7 linked regions of the Homo sapiens genome follow. The protein of the gene in region 3 purifies or fractionates together with the protein of the main gene of each other region. This does not show direct contact. Each region holds a gene or a part of one and is shown on either strand. Other genes may lie near its edges. The genes, in order: METTL13, DHX32, SLC9A2, LRP4, KIF1A, MLF1 and LRIG3.

Region 1 (3,279 bases), on a different chromosome or scaffold from region 3:
TGTCTCAAAAACAAGGAAGAAAAAAGAAAGGACTTGCCAAGTAAGGTCCTCTGGGGTACACAGACCTGACATGAGGGATAATCTTCCCGTTACGGGGTTCCAGGGGAAGATCCCCTCCTAAAGAAAGAGAACCAAGTATTTCTAATGGGTAAGATCTAAAAACACTTCTCTGCACTCCCTCCTCTCCTTAACAGACTGACACTACTTTCTAAGGATGACAACCTAACTGAAATACAGACAGTCTCTGACTTACAATTTTTCAAGTTTACAATGGGTTATCAGGGTATTAAATGCATTTTCTACTTATGATGGATTTATCAGGATATAACCCCATCGTAGGCTGAAGAGCATCTGTATGCTTCAACTGAAAGGTCAGGGTCCATTTTTAAAGGGCCTGTGGAAAGAAGAGCCAGGTGGTGAATGGTGACAATGCCTATTTTCCATGGCACTGCTCATTAAGTCAACCTCGGTATAATTAGGAAAGACAAAATTCAAGCCAGTCTTGGAATCATTGGTTTAATGGTTCTGAATAAATGGTTAAGATTGATGTTTCCAGCCAAGTGAGATTTGGGTTTAGATATAGTTTGGGCTTAAGTATCCTTTATCTCAGATTAAATGAGACAGTGCATGTAAACCACTTAGAAGAATGCCTGGAACACATTAACTTTCATTACTAATGTTTTTGGTCATTCTTAAACATTTTCACTTCTGCCACCACCCTTTATGCAGTCTGGCACATAGCTGTCACTCAGCAAATGTGAGCAAACAAACACTAGAGACTTTAGTCTGCCAGGTCTCTAACATGCAAAGCCATGGGGCCAGGTCCATACACTCCCTCCACTGAGAAAAAGACAAATGGCTTAGGCTACAAGGTTTGGGTCACCAAGGAAAGCTGTCAAATAATGAAGTGGGTAAGCAGATTCCTAAAAATTGGAACCATTTCAGCAGCAGTTTCATCCACAGGGAGACAGAGTAAATGCTCTCTCAAATCTGTCTCACATCTATAGAAACCTTACTCTATTTATGGTCTTTTGGCATCTTGCTCTGCTATCTCACTTGAGATCACTCCTATAGAACTAATAGAGGAATAAATCAAAAGCAAACCAGTATAAGTAGAGACGCAATAAAATTTGGATGTCTTGAGTTCTGAGGGGCTTGCACACACTTGTTAAGGCATGCAGTGTGTGCTAGGGGCTTCAGCAGGGAACTCCACTCAAGGACGTGGTGTAGGAAGCAAAGACAAACCAACCCAAGTGGTACTGAAGAGGACAAGATGGGAAGGACATTTTTATTTTCCCTAATCTTCAGGCAACCTCACCAAGCTGGAGGTCACATGTAGCTGAGTGTGAAACCAAGAAAAATACGAAGCTTCAAAAGTACTGTGCGTTGTATTTCTTCATTCTCTGGCAGGCTGGGAGTCCAAGGTCAGTCTAGGCAGGAGGGCTGCTTGGCCTAAGCAGTCACACAATTTTCACCGTCTTGAGCATATCTGACAAGACATACGTGTCATCCCAACCCCTCCCAGGCTTCCTCAGGGTCCGCTCCAAAGCCTGGGCTGTTTCTAGGAGCTCTGGTGTGGCAAGTTTTTGCTCAGGGTGCAGCTGACAGAACAGGATCTCATTCACTTCACCCTCAATTCGCCGGACATATAGGAGGGGGAACACTGCCTTGAGCCCAGCCAGCACTGAGTCTTTTAGCCCCAAGTCTCGGCACACAAGGTTGAGAATAAAAACACCTATAGGGTAGGAAGAAAAGTCAGAATGACCTCACATCAGGAGACATATGAAAGACAAGGATCGGCTTTGAGGAAAATACCAATTCCTGTCCCAGGGAGACTGGTGGACTAAAACACACGGTGGTGATGAGTTTGCAGAGAATACACAGCATAGAAAGGCAGATGGAGAAAAGCATGGGGAGCATGTGAGCCATAAACAAACTCCAGCCTTATTTCTTGCTCTTCTGTGCTGCTCACATGTTATTTTACCATTCTCCAAGCCTCAGTTTCCCAAATAGCTTCTCAAAGAATAGCTTTGAGAAAGAAGTGATTCCCAGCTGGGCACGGTGGCTCATGTCTATGATCCCATCACTTTGGGAGGCTGAGGCAGGCGGATCACTCGAAGTCAGGAGTTTGAGACCAGCCTGGCCAAAATGGTGAAACCCCGGCTCTACTAAAAATATAAAAATTAGCTGGGCATGGTGGTGGACGCCTGTAATCCCAGCTGCTAGGGAGGCTGAGGCAGGAGCTGCTAGTGGGGCTGAGGCAGGAGAATCTCTTGAACCCAGGAGGCAGAGGTTGCAGTGAGCCAAAATCCAGCCTGGGTGACGGAATGAGACTTTGTCTCAATCAATCAATAGAAAGTGATTCCCTACGAAAGTAAAATTTACCAACTCCACAGGGATATTACATTCTTGGCATACACACCATAGAGTATTAACCAGTGACAGGGCCGAGGTTATCTTGACTTCTGACAATTAAGATTCCAAATCAAGCCAGTTACCACAGTGCCTTACACCAAATCAAAAATACCTAGAGGGTTGTTAACATAGGGATTAAAGGCTCCAGTTTTGAGGTGACAAGGCACTGACTTTGAGCCCCAACTGTTACCTTGCGTCACCTTGGCAAATCTTCAACCTCAGTTTCCTCATCCAAAAAGTGGACTGCTATGAAGATTAAATAACACACTGCCTAGTAGAGCACGTGTAGGAAGCATCATGTAGTAGCTAGCATCACCATGCTGGTGGGAGTGTGAACTGCTACAACCACTTTGTAAAACTGTGTGGTAGCATCTACAAAAGCCAAAAACATACCCATAACCTATGATCCAGCAATTACAACCCTGTGTATATACCCAAGAGATCTGAAAACATAATTCATCAAAAGGCATATACTAGAATGTTAATGGCAGCACCACTTATAATAGACCCACACAGGAAACAAACCAAATACGAACAGTAGAATGGATAAGCGAATTGTGTTAAGTTACATGATATAACACAGCAATAAAAATAAGCCATGTAAACACAACACTGTGAATGAGTCTCACAAACATCATGTTGAGTGAAAGAAAATGGACACTTAAAGAGTACATTCAGCCAAGTTCAGTGGCTCATGCCTGTAATCCCAGCACTTTGGGAGGCCAAGGTAGGAGGATCGCTTGAGGCTAGGAGTTTGAGACCAGCCTGGGCAACATGTTGAGATCCTATCTCTACAAAAAATAAAAATAAAAAAATTAGCCAGGCATGGTGGCATCCACCTGTAGTCCCAGCTACTCAGGTGAC
Region 2 (3,500 bases), on a different chromosome or scaffold from region 3:
TTTCTTGTATAGGCACAAATTTATCTTTAAAAAGGTAACTTTTCAGAGCTACTCCTATGTCTACACTTTCTCAAAATGTGCAAAGGAGGCATATTTTGGGGTCACATATTCTGGTCTCCTTCAGTCATATTCTGGGGAGGTATGTCCTGAGCCCCAACATTAGATAGTTAATAAATACTTATTATTCAGTTTGTTGTTGTATTTGGACTTCAAGTTTTTGTTCAAGTGAGATCCATATTTTACTCTTAAGTTTTAAAGCAAGCAACCAGTATTTTTATCATGAAATTCATTTCTAGATTCTCGCGATGTAAGAATTAGAATAGACCATATAGTGTGAATAATAAGAAGTCCCATTTCTCATAGAGAAGTTACGAATAGATCTAGTAGAATAGACTATGCTCTAATAGAATAGAATTAGAAACTGATGGAACCCCTTCATTTTTCAGATGAATAAACTGTGGCCCAGAAGGATTTGATAATTTGTCTATCTAATGTCAGTAGCTTTCTGAATTGGAGTTAAAAGAATATTTTCTACTATAAATTGTTGCTTTCAAGTTGTTTATTATCTCTAGAGTTTACCTATTTTATTATCACTATTATTTTTTGAGACAGAGAGGCTCGTTCTGTCACCCAGGCTGGAATGCAGTGGGGCAGTCTTGGCTTACTATGACCTCCGTCTCCCGGTTCAAGCAATTCTTGTGCCTCAGCCTCTTGAGTAGCTGGGATTACAGGCATGCACCATCATGCTTGGCTTATTTTTGTATTTTTAGTAGAGTCAGGGTTTCACAATTTTGGCCAGGCTGGTCTCGAACTCCTGGGCTCAAGCGATCCTCCCACCTTCACCTCCCAAAGTGCTGGGATTACAAACATGAGCCACTGTACCTGCCCTAAAGTTAACTTACTTTAAAGGTAATTTGAAAAGAGGAGGGCTGGACAACAGATGTTTTTTATCTGATTTACAGCTGCCAGTATCAAAGGTTTATTATGATTTGTTCTTTGTTACGCTGTTATTGTTATAACAAACGATTTCAGTTCATTACGAGAAGCTAACGATGAGAACTGACTGAGTATAATTTTCCTAGTTTCTGTGGACAAATAACATTGAAAAAATGTGTTTTTATTTTACAATAATTTCAAACTTACAAAAAGTTGCAAAAATAGTACAAAGATTTTCCATATGTTGTTCACCCAGATTCCCCAAATGTAAGATTTTACCATATAAACTTTATCTTTCCCTCCCTGCCCCCTCCATACATTCATACACATTTTTATTCTGAACCATTTAGGGGTAGGTTGAGGACATGATGCCCTTTGCCTCCAAATACTTAACAGAGTATTTATTTACTGAAAAACAGTGTGTAGCCGTAACATAATTATCAAAATCTGGAATGTAATGTTGATATCTAATTATTATCTGATTTCTAGACATTCACATTTAATCAGTTTCCCATTGATAGCCTTTATAATCACTGAAAAAAATTGTTTTTCTGGTCCAAAATCCAATCTAAAATTGCATTGTATTTTATTGTCGTTTTTTAATCTGACACAACTCCCCAGTCTCTCCCTGTCCTTTATGACTTTGACATTTTTGAAGAGCACAGGTTATATATTCTGCAGAACCTCCCTCAGTTTGAACATGTCTGATGTTTCCTTAGGGTTAGGTTCCGGCTCTGCATTTGTGGCAAGAAGATCACACAAGTGCTGTGTATCCTTCTCAGTGCCTCATATCAGGAGGCACAAGATGTCAGTTTTGCCCATGCTGGTGATGTTAATTCTGATCCCTTGGTAAGGTGGTATCTGCCTGGTTCTTTATTGAAAAGTTAACAATTTCCCTCCAATCATTTAATAGATACATATTTTGAAAGTATGTAAATGTTTCTCATTATACATTTGTAACCACCCAATGGGTTCATCTTGTTTGTTGTCAAGATAGAGCCAATTTATCAAGACAAGGGAATTGAAATAGAGAATGAATTTAATACACATAAAGCTGGCTAAACAGCAGACAGGAGTTGTACTATTACTCCAATCAGCCTCTTTGTCAATTTGGAGGCTAGAGTTTTTCAAGGATAGTTTGGTGGGCAGGGGGCTAAGGAATGGGTACTGCTGATTGGCTGAGGATGCAATCACAGAGGTGTGGAAAACAGTCCTCATGTGCTGAGTCCACTTCTGGGTAGGGACAACAGAGGAGTTACTGGTCTATCCAGTTATAGGGCCTCCAGTTGTCAGAAATACAAAAACCTGAAAAGACATCTCAGAAGGCCAATCTTAGGTTCTATAATAGTGATGTTATTTACAGGGAGGTTACAAATCTTGTGACCTCTGGAATAATGACTGGTAATCATTTAACTACACCTACATCTTGGCAGAATTCAGGCCCCTCTCATCCTCCTAACCTGGTGTCCTTTCATTAGTTTTACAAAGGCAGTTTCATTTTGCTGTCATCATTTAAACTATAAACTATCTACAAAAGTTAGCTTGGCCCACTGCAGGAATGGCTAAGGGAGTTTGGGGGTGAAAGGCAAGATGGAGTTGTCAGGTCAGATCTCCTTCACCATCATAATTTTCTCACTGTTACAATTTCTGCAAAGGCAGTTTCACATTCATCCACTAGTGTTAGCATTTTTGGTGATTCTTACCTTTGAATTATTACATTAGTAGTAACCAAAGATGATTATTCTAATTCTGACATGCCTTCTACACATTATTTAGAATCTTTCTGTAAGTCTGAGCTTTCTCTCCTTCATCATTTATTTATGTCAATGTGGACTCATAAATTCTTATTTTATTCTATGGGTTATAATGTATTACTAAGCCTACTTACTTTGTTGTTCAAATTGCCCCCAATGTGGCTTCTCTGTCCTTTTGACATTTCCCCATTATTGAGCACTTCTTTGCTTTCTGGCTCAGTAAGATGTTCCAGGTTCATCTAGTACATTCCGCATGCCGGTGTAGAAACCATTTTTTTTTTCTCCAGGAGTCCTTGTTCCGTTTAGTGGTGAACTGTGTTTTGAAACCAAGATCTGGACACTAAGTACCTATTACCATTGGTTTATCATTGCAATTTTTTTTTTGAGACAGTGTTTCATTCTGTCACCCAGGCTGGAGTGCAGTGGCATGATCACGGCTCACTGCAACCTCAACATCCTGGGCTCAAGTGATCCTCCCACCTCAGCCTTTAGAGTAGCTGGGACTACAAGTGTGTGCCACTACACTCAACTAATTTTTGTATTTTTTATAGAGACGGGGTTTTGTCATGTTGCCCAGGTTGGTCTCGGACTCCTGGGCTCAAGCAACCTACCTGCCTTGGCCTCCCAAAGTGCTGGGATTATAGGCCCACTTCACCCGGCCTATCATTGCTTTTAGGCCATCTCAGTGGACACAACAAGGAAATAAATGTATGTGAGTGCAATATACACACGTCTCATTCTATCCATCTATTTGTGGCTCTGTTTCTCTCTGTCTTTCTCTATTTTTATGTATTTCTATTTTCTTACCTC
Region 3 (3,500 bases):
TACATTTCTCTTTTTAAGCTACGGTGTTTTAAAATGTGAAATTAAAGATGCAAAATCCAGATCTATGTGGTTTAATGAGGCCTAGCCAAATGAAAATAACATAACTCATTTGATAGTATAGGTATAAAAATATACATCTGGAAAATGTAGATATAGAAAACAGATATGGAAAAAAAGTACATGCGCAAAATCAAGTTTTCTTTTAAATGGTAATAGTTTTATATGAAAAAATACACTTTGAGCCACAAGTACTGGAAATAAGGAAGTTAAAAACTTAATAATTAAAGGAAGAACTCACTCTGGAGATGTAACAATATTGAATGAGTATGTAATAACATAGCATCAAAACAAAGCAAAAATTGAAACAATTACAAATGGTAATTGACATCACAATTTTAGAAGTGATTTTAATGTACCCCAGGAACTGATAAAGTAACCAAAAAACTGGTAATGCTATTGAAGATTTTAACACCGTAATTAGAAATTTGACCTAGTCTCTATGTGTCTGCATATGTATACATCTAAGTATATAAAATCCTGTACACAATAAATAGAGAATACACATTGTTTTTTCAAGTATAAATGGAAAATATAGTTTTAAAATGTCCATAAAATAAGCCATAAAGGATATCACAATCAACACTAAAAATCAGCATTATACCTATCTAGCCAAAATGCATTAAAATGTCAATAAAATAAAAAACAACTGGGCATGGTGGTGCATGCCTATAGTTACAGCTACTTGGGAGGCTTAGGCGGGAGAATCATTTGAGCTAAGGAGTTTGAGAGCGGCCAAGGCAACATAGTGAGAACCTATCTCTAAAACTGACAATGACAACAAAAACCCCAAATCTCCATAAGTTTATTAACTGAGAAGTAAAATTCTAACTAATTATTGAGTCAGAATAAAATATCACAAGGGGGTTTAAAAATACCGAGAGCTGAGTGACAGTGGAAACCCCGCATATCAAACCTATGCAATACAATTAAAGTAGGAAAAAAGGGGTATATTTCTAGCCTTAAATACATATATTGCCGTTCTTCCAAAATTTACCCATTTGGATCATGAGAATTCATCTTTGAGAAGAGTTTCATTGAATAATCCTATTTTAGTTCATGAAGCATTCCTTTGGCTCCATGAAGATCAAACTGATTTTGTGGACTCTGAGCATCCTGAGATGAGATCCATCAAAAGCAGTCATCATTCCAGTTTTATCATTGGTATGTTGTGTTAAGAAATCCTTTCAGAACACCCATGGTTTCCTACTTAACAGCAGTAAAGACATCATGCAATTTATTCAGAAACTGATATGTCATTTGCATAATTTTCCTTATATCTTTTGTCTTTACCATTCTCTTTATTGTTATTATTATTTGTATTAAAGATGAATTTACATAAACTTTGAGTATTATGAATACGTTTAGTTTGTGACAGAGTCTTAAGTGTACAGTATATCATAGATTTGAATTTAATGAAAACAAGCAAATACCCATATTTGGGATAAATTGATAAGGGGAATTGTCTTATTAGGAGTTTCAATAAGTAAGTAAGCTACTGAAGTAATTTTGTTCATTTTAATAAGACTGATGTCACTTTAGCATAAGTGCATGTCAATTTTGGAGCTCAGGGATTCATAAAAATACCAGCAGAGAAACTATTGAAAATAATATTAATTATGTTTTTAAATATTGGTGTTTCTTACTCTTGTAAGGCGGGAATTAACAATATTAACAGAACATAAGTAAACCAAACAATTAATGGGTTAAGTTTTTAATTCAAGGATTAATTAAATAAATAAACCCAAAGAAAGCTGAAGTAAGTAAATCATAAATGTAAGAGCAGAAGCAGATAACTTAGAAGCTAACCAAAAGCTAATTCTTTGATAAAGTATCAAATAGACAAACTCCTGCATACCTGATCAAGGTGAAAAAAAGAAAAACATAACAATATTAGAAACAGAAAGGAGAACATAAATGCATATAAAGTGGAGATCTTTTAAATCATAAAATAACTTCCAATAAATTTTTAAAAACTCAAAATAATAATTTTATAAAAAATACAAATTACCAAAATTGACCCCAGAAGACACAGATAAACCAAATAAAACTATAAACATTAAAGCCACGGACTCACTGGTTAAAATCTATCCATATACCAAAACCATCAATTCACTTGCTTTTACAGGTGAGTTTTTATATCACCCAAGGAACAGTTTGTTTTTTTTGTTTCTAAGAGAGCAGGTCTCCATCTGTCTTTGCCCACTCCCACTGGAGTGCAGTGGCATCATCGCAGATCACTGTAACTTTGAACTCCTGAGCTCAAGTGATCCTCCTGACTAGCTCCTGAGTCACTGGGACTAAAGGCACAGGCCACCAAACCTGGCTTTTTGTTGTTGTTATTGTTGTTGTTGTTGTTGTTGTTAACATTTTGAAGAGATTGGGCCTCACTATGTTGCCCAGGCTGGTCTCAAACTTCTGGCCTCAAGTGATCCTCTCACCTCAGCCCCACAAAGTGCTGACATCACAGTTGTGAGCTACAATACCCAGCCAGAACAAATGGTTTTATGCAAACAGTTCATTGTATACTTCTTAGGGATTCAATCTAGGTGAAATAATTCTGTAAGAAATAAAGCTGAGTATTGTTATCATTGTTAAAGTGGATATAATGTAACATTTTCATTTGGTGATAAAAATATCTATTATTTCTCTGATGGCCAGTGATGATGAGCATTTTTTCATGTGTCTGTTGTCTGCATAAATGTCTTCTTTTGAGAAGTGTCTGTTCATATCCTTCGCCCACTTGTTGATGGGGTTGTATGTTTTTTTCTTGTAAATTTGTTTGAGTTCTTTGTAGATTCTGGATATTAGCCCTTTTTCAGATGAGCAGATTGCAAAAATTTTCTCCCACTCTGTAGGTTGCCTGTTCACTCTGATGGTAGTTCATTTTGCTGTGCAGAAGCTCTTTAGTTTAATTAGATCCCATTTGTCAATTTTGGCTTTTGTTGCCATTGCTTTCGGTGTTTTAGACATGAAGTCCTTGCCCATGCCTATGTCCTGAATGGTATTGCCTAGGTTTTCTTCTAGGGTTTTTATGGTTTTAGGTCTAACATTTAAGTCTTTAATCCATCTTGAATTAATTTTTGTATAAGGTGTAAGGAAGGGATCCAGCTTTGGCTTTCTAAATATGGCTAGCCAGTTTTCCCAGCACCATTTGTTAAATAGGGAATCCTTTCCCCATTTCTTGTTTTTGTCAGGTTTGTCAAAGATCAGATAGTTGTAGATATGTGGTATTATTTCTGAGGGCTGTGTTCTGCTCCATTGGTCTATATGTCTGTTTTGGTACCAGTACCATGCTGTTTTGGTTACTGTAGCCTTGCAGTATAGTTTGAAGTCAGGTAGCGTGATGCCTCCAGCTTTGTTCCTTTGGTTTAGGATTGACTTGGCAATGTGGGTTCTTTTTTGGTTCCATATGAACTTTAAAGTAGCCATCAGAGAAATGC
Region 4 (3,334 bases), on a different chromosome or scaffold from region 3:
CGGAAGCCATGGTTTTCCCTCCTCCTGTATGGTAATGGTAATAATTATCACAGCTGCCTCTCCCCTTTTAGGCTAGGCCTCATACACTTGTCTTAATCACATTTCCCCATTTGTTTGTGGGATTTTTGTGCGCTTCACTCCTACTCTTACCCCATCCACTTCCTTTTTCAGTTTACCATGGGATCCTTTGTAGAAGGCCAACTGACTGACCATATCTGCCCACTCTCCACCCTAGGGAGGGCCTGACCATAACTACACCAAGGAGAAGATCAAGATCGTAGAGGGAATCTGCCTCCTGTCTGGGGATGATGCTGAGTGGGATGACCTCAAGCAACTGCGAAGCTCACGGGGGGGCCTCCTCCGGGATCATGTATGCATGAAGACAGACACGGTGTCCATCCAGGCCAGCTCTGGCTCCCTGGATGACACAGAGACGGAGCAGCTGTTACAGGAAGAGCAGTCTGAGTGTAGCAGCGTCCATACTGCAGCCACTCCAGAAAGACGAGGCTCTCTGCCAGACACGGGCTGGAAACATGAACGCAAGCTCTCCTCAGAGAGCCAGGTCTAAATGCCCACATTCTCTTCCCTGCCTGCCTGTTCCTTCTCCTTTATGGACGTCTAGTCCTTGTGCTCGCTTACACCGCAGGCCCCGCTTCTGTGTGCTTGTCCTCCTCCTCCTCCCACCCCATAACTGTTCCTAAGCCTTCACCGGAGCTGTTTACCACGTGAGTCCATAACTACCTGTGCACAAGAAATGATGGCACATCACGAGAATTTAGACCTGGATTTTACCATGAACCTCACATCTTGTACTCCATCCTGGGCCCCCTGAAACTGCTTATTCGTGATTCCTCACCAGCGTAGAGCTCCACCTCCCCTTTCCCCAGTACCCTCAGTGCCTGCTTCTCAGTGCTGATGCAGCTGATGACCCAGGACTGCGCTCTGCCCCATCACAGCCAGCATGACTGCTTCTCTGAGAGAACTTGCCCATCAGGGGCTGGGACATGGGGGTGTGGGTAAAGACAGGGATGAAGGATAGAGGCTGAGAGAAGAAGGAAGAATCAGCCCAGCAGGTATGGGCATCTGGGAAACCTCCAGCCTCAAGTGTGTTAGTAACATGAAAAAGCTTTGGGGGGTAGTTGGATCTGGGTGTCTGGTCCATTGCTGGCAGTGGACATTATTCTTGCCCTAAGAGACACTGCCTTTTCAGCAGCAGATACTGGTGAGATGGGGGTGGCTCAGGCTGTTCTTCCTCCTCCTAGAATGTCTGGAGCTGTTTCTACATTCAGATAACTGGGTCCCCTATCACAAGGCTACTGGCTAATAGGAATTCCCTCCTGGTGCCACCACTGGCCAGTACCTTTCCTAAGTCTTTGCTCAAATTAACCAGGTTGTGAGCCAGTGGCTTGAGTGAATGTTAGGCCTTGGGGGCTGAGTCTCTGAAAAGTCTAAGAAGCTCTGCCTAGACCAAATATGGTATACCTCCTGACCCCTCTCTCCCTCATGTCCTGGGATTCTGGGGAAGAGACCTAGAAACAAGCTTTCAAAGAAAAACCAGAAGTTGTCATAAATGGTCAGAAAGAACGATCAGGTTGGAGACTTGGGAAACCCAGGGCCTAAAGAGAAGTATCCATGAGGGTCAAACTTCCTGTTGAACTTCCTATGTTCTTTCTCAAGTGCTCAGGGATCTAAGTTAGTGGACAGCAAGCCTGTGGCTACGGGGTGGTGATGTTCCTCTTCCAGCTGTCCCCTCAGCTAAGGGGCTTAGTTTCCATGTGGGATGCCATCACTTGGTTCATGCTCATTCACACAAAGGGCACGTGTCTCAGCCTGGTATCAGGGAAATTGAGACTTATTTTTGCCCTAAAACGTCTCCCTAGCTGTTCTTCGTGGGGTTTTTTTGTTTGTTTTTTTGCCTAATTTGCTTTTTCTGACCAAGCCTTGTGGCACCAGCAATCTCCAAAGTCCTGTGGTGGGAGGGCTGAATAAATAAAAATACAAAGAGGTGGGTAAGGAGTAGGAAGGTAGAGAGCACCACTGATGAGGCCCTCCTAGCCCATGGCAGACCCAGACCTCTTCTCCCCCAGGAATTAGAAGTGGCAGGAGAGAACAACAGGGGCTGGGAATGGAGGGGAGAATTTCTAGGGGAAGTTTCCTGAGTTGAAACTTCTCCTGTGGTTACTGGTATTGAGAAATCAGCTACCAAAGTGAAAAAGGACAAGATCAATTCTTTTCTAGTCAGTTCTAAGACTGCTAGAGAGAGATACCAGGCCCTTAGCCTTGCTCTCAGTAGCGTCAGCCCCAGTTCTGAGCCTCCCCACATTACACTTAACAAGCAGTAAAGGAGTGAGCACTTTGGGTCCTTAGACTCACGTCTGGGGAGGAAGAGCAAGTAGAAAAGTGGCATTTTCTTGATTGGAAAGGGGGAAGGATCTTATTGCACTTGGGCTGTTCAGAATGTAGAAAGGACATATTTGAGGAAGTATCTATTTGAGCACTGATTTACTCTGTAAAAAGCAAAATCTCTCTGTCCTAAACTAATGGAAGCGATTCTCCCATGCTCATGTGTAATGGTTTTAACGTTACTCACTGGAGAGATTGGACTTTCTGGAGTTATTTAACCACTATGTTCAGTATTTTAGGACTTTATGATAATTTAATATAAATTTAGCTTTTCTTAATCACCTTGCCTGGCTTGGAGTCATGACTAATCCTGCACCTGCTCTGTCTGGCAGACCCATGCTGTGGAAAACCTGCTTACAGACATCACTTTTAAGTCCTTTGTGGATGTGGGCACAGTGAAGAGCAATAAAGAGTGTGAGGTTCCTGCTGGAGTTTTCAGCTCATCTGGAGAAGACAGGTCGAGGCCAGAGTTCCTTGACTGATGAAACCTTTATTTCCTCTGGAAGAGGAATGGTAGATGGGTTTCCTCTTGAGTGCTGACTCTGACTGGTTGGTAGTGGCTGCCTGAGGGCCTATTCGCACCCAATGGGAAGAATGTCATATGGCTAGTGACATCTCTTCTGTGCACTGGAAGGAAATGTCATGGCATGTATACCATGTATCTTCTATTTCTGTTCTAGGTCTTTGTTACAGAACTTTACTTTGCCTTGCAGTGATGGTCACTGGCAAGACTATCTCATGTAGTAAGAAAAGTACTGGAGCTGGGGACATGGAGGGCTAATTCCAGTCCCAGATCTGCCACTAGCTCTGTTTGATCTTAGTCAACTTTCATAGTTAGTCTGAGAGTGGATCAAATTATCACTAGGATTTCATTTATTTTTAAAAGCTGTCTTTTCATAGCTCATCCACTACTTCTCAAGGCTAGAACAAG
Region 5 (4,040 bases), about 140 Mb from region 3:
CCCAGACTCTGCAGGCAGACAACCACGTGCTCATCCTACCAATCACAGCCACCCAGAGACCCAGGCCCACCACTCTCCACCCGTGGTAGCGGCTCAGGCCCCTCCCAGCTCACTGATAGATGTGCACGGATGGTCTCAGGCCTGACGGGATTGGCCAGCTAGGCATGTGCAGGGCTCAGTAAATCCCAATGACCTAATGCTGGTAGCCCCTCCATAGACCCCAATCTGGTAGGACCAGGGCTCTGTGGGAACGTCTCCCTTCCCGTCCCCACCACACCCAGTTCACCTGCTTTGGCCGGCCCGGCTGAGTGGCCTGAAGAGATGCCCTCAGTCTCCTCCAGGGCCTCCTCCTCCAGCTCACATCTCCCCCTCCACCCTTCACAAATCCCACAGGAGGACTGCCCTACCCTACTCCCAAAGGGCATGGTGGGCCCAAGGTCAGCAGTCATGACATCAGTGAGGACTGCGGGGCACAGGCTGGGCGGCCGGGCAGTGACCCCAGTTTTAATCCTGATCCAGCCAAGCATCATCCCTGGGCTTTGGGCAGAACTCCAGGCTCCACCTGTTTGTGGCTGGCCGGCTGGAGCCCCAGATGGGGCAGTCTGTGGGACATTCCAGTGGGGAAGGGGGAAAGGAGGCACCCAGGGGGGCAGCACCCGGCTGGGAGCAGGGCTGGCACACAGCAGACATCTTGCAGGCCCTCACCACAGGGACCTCCCTGGGCCCGGCCCGGGACCCCTGCCTTGACAACTGATTCCAGCCTCTGTCCACCCTGCGGACCTGCCCGGGGAGGACACCTGCAGGGCCTCAGATCCATCTGCAGCCGGAGTGAAGCTGTTCATCCGGGCCCTGCCTTGGACCCAGCACCCTCCCGAGACTTCACCCCGGGTAAAGGCTGCCCTCCTCCGATCCCACGCTGGGCCCCTCAGCCAGCGGCCTTACCGCATCCCTCCTCATCCCTCCGGTCCAGAGGGTTCCTGGGTCTTGACTCCAACCACCCCATCAACCAAACAAGGAACCCCTCTAAATAGACGGTGTGTGTTCAGTGCAAGGGCAGACCTGAGCCCTGGCCCTGGCCCATCCCACACCCTGCACCGCAAGCTCCACATCTGCTCCACTCCTGACTGCCCCACTCCTGACTGCCCCACTCCACAGCCTGGCTAAGGCTGGTGGCCAACCACACCTGCAAAATGGCCGCCGCAGGTGCAGCCCCAACCCCCACGTGGACCCCAGAGCTTCCCTTCAAACCCTCTGCTGCCTTCTCACACCACGAGGGTGCTGGCATGGCTTCCCTGGCAAAGGCCCCGCCAGCCTGAGTGCGACCTGGTGTCCCGCAGAGCCGAGCACGGTGTCGCGCTGTGCGTCCCCAGGGTGAGGCCAGTGCCAGCCCTGCGAGGCAGGGGCCTCTCCGCACCGCCTCCTCTCCGCAGCCGCAAGATCCAATCCGCTTGCCCTGGCAGGCCTTTAATTCCAGCAATGCAGGCACCCCTTGGAAAGGGCTGACGCTTGGGGAAGGGGTCCTCCAGTCTCTGGGGGAAAGTCCCTATTCCCGGGGACGTGGGCGCGCATCGGGTCCGCGCCGGGCGACGTCGCGCTCGCGCCCAGCAGGCCCCATGACTTGGCATTCCCTCCTTCCCCTCCCCCTCCCGCCCCTGCGGCCGGCAGGGCCCCCCCAACCCCACCTACCGGCGCCCAGCGCCCCGCTCCTGCGGACCCTCCCTCCCGGCGGGGATGCTGCCCCGGCCCTTCCCAGCGAGAGGGCAGCGCGGCTGGTTTGGGGGAAGTCAGCGTGAGGAGCGGCTTAAAGCGGGAGTGCGAAGGTCTTCGCGGCCACTGTTCCTTCGTGTCATCCGAGCCCGGGCGCCGGGGGCGCGCCGCCAGCCTAGACCCTGCGGCCCCGCAGCCCCTCCCTCGCCGCCGGGCCACACCTGTTACAGGGGCGCTGGCTGCTGAGACGCAGGCAGTGCTCGCCGGCGGCCCCTCCCAGGTGCTGGGTCTTTCTGGAAGGGAGCTGGGGTCTCTGGCGTGGGAGGGGGTGATGGGCAGGCCGGCCGTGCAACGAAGCGGGTGGCCAGGCCCCAACGCCGCAGCCCCCGCCCCGCCCGCCTGTTTTGCTCCCGGCTCCAGCATCCGCCCTCCCCCACCCCGGGAACCGGAGCAGCTGCCCGCGCCCGGCCGCCCTGCGCGCTCTCCCCTCGGGCCGAGGCGCTGCAGCCGCGCACCCTCCCAGGTGCGGCGTCAGCGTCCTCAGCCCCGCTCACCATCCCTCCCCTCCCCCGCCGTCTGGGCGCAGCCCCTCCCGCAGCCCCGCCGGTGGCTCCTCTCCAGGGAAGCGGAATAGCCGGGGAAGGGCGGGGGTATCCCGATCCCGCCGGCCGGGCGAGCCCTCCCGAGGGCGACCCCCGCCCGCCTAAGCCGAGGGTCCCGCTGCAGCCGAGATCGCGGCAAAGGGACCTTTTCCAGCGGCACCTGAAGGGCGGACACCCCTGAATTTCCCCCATTGTTCTCTGCGGAGATGGAGGAAGGTCTGGAAGTGAAGGGGCCTCGCAGTGCCTGCGCTTTGGGCGGCAACAAGGGCGCCGGGCCGGAGCTCCCCGCCCTGGGCGCAGTGGGTGCAGGTGCGGGCTGCGGGCGCGGGCTGCCGGGCGCAGGTGCGGGGCGAGGGGCGCGGGCGCGGGAGGCCGGGCGGGCGGCGGCCTTACCTCTCCGGCGTCACTGGCGGCGGCCCCGCATGGGCACTGGCATGGGCGCGGGCTCTCGAGCCCGGAGCTGCTGCCGCTCGCCGGCTGCTCTGCGCTGTGACGGCGCCGCCGCGTGACGGGCTGCGCGCCCCCGGCCCGGACCGCCCCGCGCCCCTCCCGAGGCGCTGGTTGGCTGCGCGCGGCGTCCGAGCTCCAGTCGCCAGCTGGTTTGTCGCGCGGGGAGAGGGACGGGCGACGCGGCCGCCGCGGGGATGGGGCTGGGGACGGAGGGGGCCGGGGCCGGGCTGTGACGTCACCGCTGACACCGCGGCGGGCCCCGCGGAGGGTGGGGGACCGACACCCGGCTCGGACGCAGCGTCCCCTCCCCCGGCGTGCCCCTGAGACCTCGCGGGGGAGGGACCCGGCGGCGCCCCGTCCCGAAGCCCCGCGTGCACCTGAACTTGCCCGCGGACCCCTCGCCGGGCCGTCCCCCACCCTGGCCCCTTTCGAGTGAAATCGTAAAACGTCCACCTGCCCCCGCTCTGAGCCAGCGACAGACGCATCGTGGGGGGCGGGCGGGGCTGGGGAGGGAGGGCTCCTTGCGCCAGGGATGCTGGCTCCGGGTGTAACAGGTGCGCGGTGAAATCGCATCTTGTGTCGGGGCCGGGGCGCCGGGGGAAGAGCAGCAGTGACCCAGGCCCTCCCCGCCGGATGATGCAACCCGCCCGCGGACCCGCCGCCTCGCCTCTACCGCGGCTCGTGGGGACCCCCCGCCCTCCTCTCGCCCCACCTCTCCAGGCCCCCATTGTCCTCACCCCAGCCTGTCCAGTTTAACTTCCTTGGACCCCCAAGTCACACGCCGCTCGGGGGCCACCCCGGCAAACCCCAGCCTGCGTCACCCGCCCCCAGCCGCCTTCCTAGTTCCAGGGGCTGACTGGTATCTCTGTGCGCGCCACCGTCCTCCCTCCACCGTCCCAGGGCTGGGCAACTTCGACAAAGCCTCTGGGCAGCTCGCCCATGGGAACCTCCCCGCACTGCGGTGCGGGGGTGCACGGATTTCGGGCCACCCTGAACCCCGGGGCTGGGTCCCCTCCAGCCCAGCCCCTGCCATCGAGCCCCTGCCATGGGCATCCTGGCGTCGCCTGGCTAAGCCTCCCTGGCGCCCAGCAGGGGCCTGCGCTGCCCTAGCGGCCTCGCCGTTAACCATTTCATCCACACTCCTGGGAGAGCCGGCTTCACCTCAGTCCCGACAGCTGCGTGCGAGCGCCTTGCAGGTGGCTGGGGGAGATTCACATCCACTTCTGCAAGACACGGGCCCCCCACTCCCAGCCCCAGCCCCGCCGAAACCAGCTAGACAGC
Region 6 (3,500 bases), on a different chromosome or scaffold from region 3:
CAACTTGAAGCAAATAGAGAAAAATGTTATGATATGACTAAACTGGGTGGCAGGAATATGGGCACTTATTATGTTATTCTCTATATCCTTTCTGTACACTTGAAATATTTCATGAGTTAAAAAATTAATTCACTTCAAATGTAAACTTAAAAATAGACATTAATTTCATGAAACAAAGGCTTCTTTTCGTGTTTTGTTTACCTTGTCAACATGTAAAGGTAATAAACATCCATAGATATTTACATGAAAAAAGGCACCCTCACGGGGGGGTGGGGGGGCTACAAAAAAAATGCCACAAACTAAGTAAATACAGTTGAGCTTTAATGGTTTCCACAGTGAGGACTACCTTACCCCCAACCCCCACACCTCCCTCCTGTCCCCCCACCATCTTGTACCAGATTAAATTTTAATAGTTAAAATTTGATCTAGACAGTCTATCATCCCCTAACTTTATAAAACTTTAGGAATGCTTATAGAAAACTTACTCCTCCTGGAGCTCGACGAGTTTGAGTTGAGGCCTGAAAAACCTTTGGCGGTTCATCTCCTATTTTGGAATAAGTCATAACTGAGGAAGAACAAAATGAATGTCCATTTGGATCCACTGAAAGTTGACCCTACAGGTAAACAAATTGTAAATTCAGTCGAGTCAAATATAAATAATTATTGCCAGAGAGTTCAAATAAGTAACAACACTAGCTGTAAGTTCTACTAAGGATACTAAACTACCAATATGGTGTAGTCAAAGGCACACCCAGGTTCTCAAGTGAGAAGTGACTTGAAAAATTACCTCCGCCCAAAAAAAGTCACCCCTAGAGGGTCCTAACGGTCGTCCATTTTAGGTACAATTATCCCACTCTCGTTACAAAGACTAATAAGTGACTCACTCAGAGATCCTTAAGTCTTTGGGTGCTCGTGGCTTAGATTTCAATAAAGATGCTATGCCCCCAAACCTGTGATACTTCTATAGTCAGTGGTTGACCCTTGTGTGTAATCTTGCCAACATTAAGCCAATCAATTAGTTATACATCAAGTTTCGTACCTCCTCCTGTAGGTACCAGATTGCTACATTACTAAAACCAATAATGCCCTAGATTATTTGGGCATTCTGAAATGATCCATAGAATTCAAACTGGATGACTAGAATGTTATGGGTCTTCTTCAGATCAAATCAAGTGACTGGTTTTGATGTTAATATAGAGAGTATTATTATAGTACTAGTTTATTTGGACTATTAGGGAACTATACCTAAACATTATTCCTAAAATTTCTGTTTTCAGAGTCGTTTATAAAACCCTGAAACTCTTCAGATGCTACAAATCCTTTTAAGTAGACAGGTTATTAATAATAAAATTATGCAAATTCATATAAAATGTTCATTTACAATAGTGACTTTCAATAGAATCAATGTTTTTGAGGTTATTTTTTTTCCAATTTTTAAAAAATTTTCAAAGTTAACATTATTTTTCAAACTTGGAGGTTATGAACTCAATTTAGTGGGTTGTAACCAGGATTTTTAATACATGAAATAGACTAGAAAATAACTGTATATACTGTAAATAGTATAGTCATTTTTTCATGAAACTTTTGCTTCAAATATATTTATAAAGTATACAAATATTGCTTATTGGGTTAATCATGTAAGGTATCTTTTTTAACCACTATGGTTAAAAAAGTGTTTGAAAGCCACTATGAAATAGAATATATCAAAGTATACACAATGTTCTCAATGCTTTGTTTTTAGTACTTACGAAGTTTCTTTCTAATTTCTGCATATAGTTTCTCATATTTGACACCATTTGGTCCATTGTCTGGAAAGAGCTGACATCTGTATGCTACAGAATATCAGGAAGTATGTTATTAACTGTAGGTAACAACACAAAAGATGCAAATACATCTTCCAAAACAGCTAAAACATTTTTTTCCAATTCATTTAGTGAAATCTCATGCAGTAATCAACCAGACAAAGATAACTTAGAGGATATAATGACAGTGATTAGTTAAGGAGAAAATTGAAGCATACACAAAATCCCAAAGAGCCAACATACAAATAATTAGGGAACTGTAACATTATAAATACATATATGTGCATGTATATATAAAAACACATACACACCTAATCACTCATTACTCACTTTTTCAAAACATAATTTGGTGTATGTTAAATACTAAGTGATACATTCTCTAGCATACGATAGTTTTCATAATTTTCCTTATCTCTCAATACTCCACCATGCAAATAACTAAATTTGCGTATAAGATGCCAGTGTCACCTCCAGCAGTACCACATGGCTGACAGAAGTTGTCCCTCGAGTAAGTAGCCAGCCTTCCTCTCATCATAGTAGGATCTGGGTGACAGAAATCAATTCACTTTACTAATAGGCCTTCAATTTGCTGCCTACTGAAGGGTCAGTAGGCTATACCCTTGAAGCATGAGGTATGTGTCTTCAGAAAAACAGTTAAGAATTCCTCTAAACAGTAGTTTCTCAACCAAGATTGATTTTGACTCTCAGTGGACACTGGCAATAACTATACTCATTTTTGGCTGTCACAGATGAAGAGAGCATATAACTAGCATCTAGTGGGTGGAGGTCAGGGATGCAGCTTAACATCCTACAATGGATAGGACAGTCTCCCAGAACAAAAAGAATTACCCTGCCCAAAATGACAGTAGGGCTGAGGTTGAGAAACTTTGCTCTAGGAAAATCTACCACTGATTTTAGGTTTTAAAATCTACCACTGATTTTAGGTTTTATCACTGGAAGACTCACCAGAAAATAAAAGTCAGGCACACATTCCAATGTGTTAGCCAGTAAATCATCTGTTATAAAACAGAATGAGTTGCTTGGTTTAATGAACTTCTCTGTTCAACCAAGCGGAGCTCTGAATCCTCCTAAGTTCTATTTGTGTCTCTGTGTTCTATTGCTATTGGATTTTTACAGATATAATAATGTAAAATAGGTGGGAAAACCAAATTCCTCCTTAGAACCTGCACTTAATATTGTAGGGAACAACAAAGGCACATTTAGGAAATACTAATATATATTTGGGTAAAAAAGGACTGAAGTAGAATTAATTTTGCATTTCAGAGAGGCAAACACAATTCAGGGAATATTCTGAATATTTGCTTTAACACTAGATTGAGAATCCGTTCTTATTTCATGAGATATGGAAAGGTTAACCCAAAGAAGGATAAAAAGAGAGAGAGGAAAAGATTAGACATTTGGGTATTTCTGCCCTCTTCTCAATTCATGTTCAAATCAACCATCAAAAGATGTATCTGCACTTGCTCTGGGGTGACCCAACACACTGGAGTGACAAAAAGTTGGGGTACAAAATGTAGTTGAGACTTCAGTGGGCCCTTAAGGCCTTCAAAAATTTTGTACACATTCTCCTCTTTCTTCCTTAAATGTTTCCTCCTGACTTTAAACCTAGTTAGTTCCTTCTCATGATTCAAGTATCACCACCTGAGAAAGGCCACCGCTGGTCACCTGTCTAATCCC
Region 7 (3,850 bases), on a different chromosome or scaffold from region 3:
AGCATCTCATTACAACCTGGAACAGTGCATGAAAGTCCACTTCTGCTAGAGCCATTTTAGCTATAGACATATGCAATAAACCACTCGCTTGCTGTAAGAAAAGGGACGGCAAAAGTGAAACTACTTGGATAAGCATAAGGCATTAGACCACGTAAACCATTATTATAATTAAAGAAACATGAATTGAGCAGTGATTTATGGTAGTTGTACTATATTACACCAGATTATAACAACAAATCTTTTTTTGTTCGTAGATTTAGAAATAATGTACCTTAAATCTCTGTAGCTCCTTCTCGTTTACAATTGTGCTTTCATATGCACAATCTGATTTCAATCTGTATTACAACAATCCTGGGAGGTAGAAAAAACGGTCATTTTTGTTCATACTTTAATGGGCTAAATATAATTCCCATCCGTTTGAGACATGATAATGTGAACTAATTAAGCCTAAATTGTGCTAAAAATAATAAAAATTGTTATTGTATAAATGGGGCTTGGCATCAAATTGACACATTTTATTAAATATAATGTGCAAAATATAATGAAGTAACTTCTATTTAAAAAATGGTACAAGGCAGGTATTATTTAAAATGCTTTAGTAACTCATTTTCCATAAAAAGAAATCTGGCATTATAAAAATACATAAAATAATCATGATTTATATCATTAATTTACGTAAGATACTTTTTTGCATAAAACAAAGTTAAAAAATAGTTTAAAAAGGTATTCTTATATGAGCATCATTCCCAGTATAAAAATTTTCATAACTTTTTGTAATTTTGGTTCATCTGTATAAATAAAGCATTTTTATCCTTTTAAAATTCATAACTCCATTTAAAAAACATAAGATTCTCTCTCTTTTAAATAAAAGTTCACTTGAGGTAGTATGTTAAGCTTTTCCTTTGGTCTCATTCAGTCTATGTGTCCAAGTCATAAGACTGAAAATTTGGAGTCCTGTAGTTTTCTAAAGTCTGTTTAAAGGTACAAATGTGATTTTCTTCCTGAAAATCTGTCCTTTCTTTCCCATCTTCCTCTGACCCAGAGTCCAAGTCTGGGGAAGAATGAGCTTTCAAATAAAAGGCTCTTGGCTGACAATCTGATGGCTGTCCAAAGCTTGAATAGGCATCTAGGTGAGGTCTCCTGAGAGCTTTTCCAAAGGTACCTGAAAGAAAGAAACACCTTGAGCACATGGGTCCCTTTGCTAGCATGTGAATCAATAAAACCCATTGCAAATGAAGGAACATCTTACCCCATGAATATGAGTAAGTGTTTTCTACAAGTCCACATTATGGCACTCACATACATGTACATCTGTCTTACAGCCAGATCACTTCTAGAATGGAGCAAAAGACATTTGCCTTCCCTCATATTTACATCCACTGAACAAATGCATCTATTCTTTATCATTTCTCATGACCTGTAGTAATGTTAATGGTCATGCAATAAAGTTCCCCAATATAAGTTTCCCCACATCCTAGCTGAGAGCCCAATTTTGGTGACGGGTGTGTTGGATGGTAACATCCAAGTTAACTGAGGCTAAATAAAGAAATTTTCTTTCAAAATAAACCTGTGTCCTGCCCTTTCTTCATTAATTGTAGCCAAATATTACTCAATTGAATCAAATTCTTGCCTCAGTTATACAAAGCATATTATTTTAATTTTTTCCAAAAAAGGAATATAAATAATTACACTGTGATAAAACATAACATTTCGTAGAAGTTGGGTAAAATATTTGAAAATTCTCCTTTTTTAAATTTTATTGTCAACATGGCAAGTTGTGGCTGATTTTTCCATCTCTCTGTTCAGTGAAAAGATGACCTCAGCTCTTCCATCCTATTATCCCCATGCATCAGACGAAAAAATTCACTACCTAATCTCAGTGCCAGCCAGCATCTAACACCACCGACTTGGACCTTAAGGCTGGTTTTCTTGGCCAAAGGTAGTCCAGCTTGTCAGACTAGCAGTTGTTGCTAGGTAGGATGTTGTTTTCCACCCTTCGACTGCGGGTTCAGTTGGAAGCCACCAGACATACCAAACCACAATCATGCAGAGCACACAACTCCACCCCAAAGGCCGTGGGAGCCCAAAACCACTTTTTCCACATGGCTGACAAGCTGAGCTCCTAAGTCCTCCCCAAACCCTTGTCTTGGAGTAGATGCCACACACAGTGCTACCCAGAAAGCTCCTGAGGCTTAGTTATAGATTAAACACATCATCAAGTAAAATCCCACCTCTGACTTTGCTTTTGGAGGCATTTACACTAACTAGTCGGATGTCATGGCAGCCTCATTCAAGAAACCATTTTTTACCAGTTTGACATTCAAGGCTGTCATTGCTCTCTCACACACAACTTGGAGTATGGATCCTCAGACGAGGTACCTGATAACTTAATAAACTTACCCATGAAAGAATTACTCGAGGCAACCGACGCTGGCTCTGGATTTGCACTAAAATCTAAAGAGGACTTGTTTAGACACAGATTTTTCATTCCAGGTCCTTCATTGTGAGAGTAACTAGTGTTAAGTAGCTTCCTCACATGTGAAGGCCACGATATATTACTGAAGCTCCGTTCGCAGGATTCTTCTGAAGGATGAGAACATGGGTAGCACTCCTTTTTCTTTATGTAACTGGGCTCATAGTGGTCCATTAAAACTGTTCTTGGGTCAGGACTGCAACCTTTTTAATATGGGGGCAGTAACAGAAGGAGATTACAGTTAGCACATCTAGAAGTCTCTCTAAGAAACAGAACTGTACTCAAGCAAGAAAACCACCTACCTGTATGATATGTTTCAAAAGGATCTGAGCCATACACATTTCCCTTCAAATACATAGGGCCTGTGGATCCCAAAAACGGACAAAGGAACAGATCTGTGGCAGCTTCCACATCAGCTTCACTGCTATTGTCAATATGGCAGGTCCCTTTGAAACAAAAATCTTAGTCAATGATCCAATTATTCAAGTGCCATTCAACATTCTCCCCAGTTTTGGCATCTTCCATATTTATAGATGAAAGTTTGACTAGAACATCATATAGACAAAAAAATTGCAAAAATTTACAGTAGGGTTTTAAAAAATTTATTAGAGGACTTAATTAGCCATTGTGCTAGGTGTGGTGGCCTTATTGCTCACTTGGTTTCTACGGGAAACTGATATGTGCAGATCCTGCAGCCAAAGCAGCCATGGTCTAAACCACATACCATCAGCACTGTCCCCTTCTTACAAAAGGTCCCAGATGACCAGAACCAGGATTGGCACTTGGCCAATGACCTCTTAATGCCCATCTCAAAGATAAGCTCAGCTAAACATATCATCTCATGAGTATCTGAACCAAACAACACAGAAATATACGCCATTTACTGCTGGACACAGCAGGTGAAGAGTAAATGATATCATCAGGGTTAGAGATGTCACGATGACGCATGTGTCTGGGAAGCAGAAACTGGGCAGCAAGAGGTGGTGGGCTGAGAGAAAAGCAAATATGCAGAACGTGACACAGTAATGCTGGTGGCCCAGAGCTACTCTGGGAGCAGCCTCATCTCCAGCCTCAGCATCTAGGCAGCCTGGCATTATTATGCCCCAGTTCTGTCCCTTTAGGTTTTCCTTAAGTGTCTTTTCAGTTAACCCCATTATGCTTTAATGAGCTTGGGTCTCCACTCTGCCTCTAAACGGGTCTAACCAGAATACTCACTTCTATGCTCAGATCCTGTAACTCTACGCTCTTTATTTCTGGCTTGCCAAGCACTTTTAGTTTATCCACCTCTGACGAAACTGTGAAATTGAAAACATATACTTCTCTCCCAACTACAATGTCTGGCACAGAGCGTATAATAAATACTTATGGGAAAAGTTG

Evidence for each region.
Region 1: the proteins of SLC9A2 (region 3) and METTL13 purify together in Homo sapiens (affinity purification with mass spectrometry; one large-scale study listed by BioGRID and IntAct). This does not show direct contact.
Region 2: the proteins of SLC9A2 (region 3) and DHX32 purify together in Homo sapiens (affinity purification with mass spectrometry; one large-scale study listed by BioGRID and IntAct). This does not show direct contact.
Region 4: the proteins of SLC9A2 (region 3) and LRP4 purify together in Homo sapiens (affinity purification with mass spectrometry; one large-scale study listed by BioGRID and IntAct). This does not show direct contact.
Region 5: the proteins of SLC9A2 (region 3) and KIF1A purify together in Homo sapiens (affinity purification with mass spectrometry; one large-scale study listed by BioGRID and IntAct). This does not show direct contact.
Region 6: the proteins of SLC9A2 (region 3) and MLF1 purify together in Homo sapiens (affinity purification with mass spectrometry; one large-scale study listed by BioGRID and IntAct). This does not show direct contact.
Region 7: the proteins of SLC9A2 (region 3) and LRIG3 purify together in Homo sapiens (affinity purification with mass spectrometry; one large-scale study listed by BioGRID and IntAct). This does not show direct contact.

The regions. Positions count from the first base shown.
Region 1 is NC_000001.11:171,794,938-171,798,216, reverse strand, and holds the end of METTL13 (eEF1A lysine and N-terminal methyltransferase), read right to left. Parts: intron 1,736-3,279; coding exon 1,461-1,735; 3' UTR 501-1,460; downstream 1-500. UniProt on the Homo sapiens protein: Dual methyltransferase that catalyzes methylation of elongation factor 1-alpha (EEF1A1 and EEF1A2) at two different positions, and is therefore involved in the regulation of mRNA translation.
Region 2 is NC_000010.11:125,874,793-125,878,292, reverse strand, and holds part of DHX32 (putative pre-mRNA-splicing factor ATP-dependent RNA helicase DHX32), read left to right. Parts: intron 1-3,500.
Region 3 is NC_000002.12:102,626,053-102,629,552, reverse strand, and holds part of SLC9A2 (sodium/hydrogen exchanger 2 precursor), read right to left. Parts: intron 1-3,500.
Region 4 is NC_000011.10:46,856,217-46,859,550, reverse strand, and holds the end of LRP4 (low-density lipoprotein receptor-related protein 4 precursor), read left to right. Parts: intron 1-235; coding exon 236-568; 3' UTR 569-2,834; downstream 2,835-3,334. UniProt on the Homo sapiens protein: Mediates SOST-dependent inhibition of bone formation. Functions as a specific facilitator of SOST-mediated inhibition of Wnt signaling.
Region 5 is NC_000002.12:240,817,420-240,821,459, forward strand, and holds the start of KIF1A (kinesin-like protein KIF1A), read right to left. Parts: upstream 2,801-4,040; 5' UTR 2,703-2,800; intron 1,859-2,702; exon of another isoform or gene 1,687-1,858; intron 1-1,686.
Region 6 is NC_000003.12:158,595,194-158,598,693, reverse strand, and holds part of MLF1 (myeloid leukemia factor 1), read right to left. Parts: intron 1,833-3,500; coding exon 1,749-1,832; intron 615-1,748; coding exon 486-614; intron 1-485. UniProt on the Homo sapiens protein: Involved in lineage commitment of primary hemopoietic progenitors by restricting erythroid formation and enhancing myeloid formation.
Region 7 is NC_000012.12:58,871,655-58,875,504, forward strand, and holds the end of LRIG3 (leucine-rich repeats and immunoglobulin-like domains protein 3 isoform 2 precursor), read right to left. Parts: intron 2,920-3,850; coding exon 2,776-2,919; intron 2,677-2,775; coding exon 2,401-2,676; intron 1,163-2,400; coding exon 918-1,162; 3' UTR 501-917; downstream 1-500. UniProt on the Homo sapiens protein: May play a role in craniofacial and inner ear morphogenesis during embryonic development. May act within the otic vesicle epithelium to control formation of the lateral semicircular canal in the inner ear, possibly by restricting the expression of NTN1.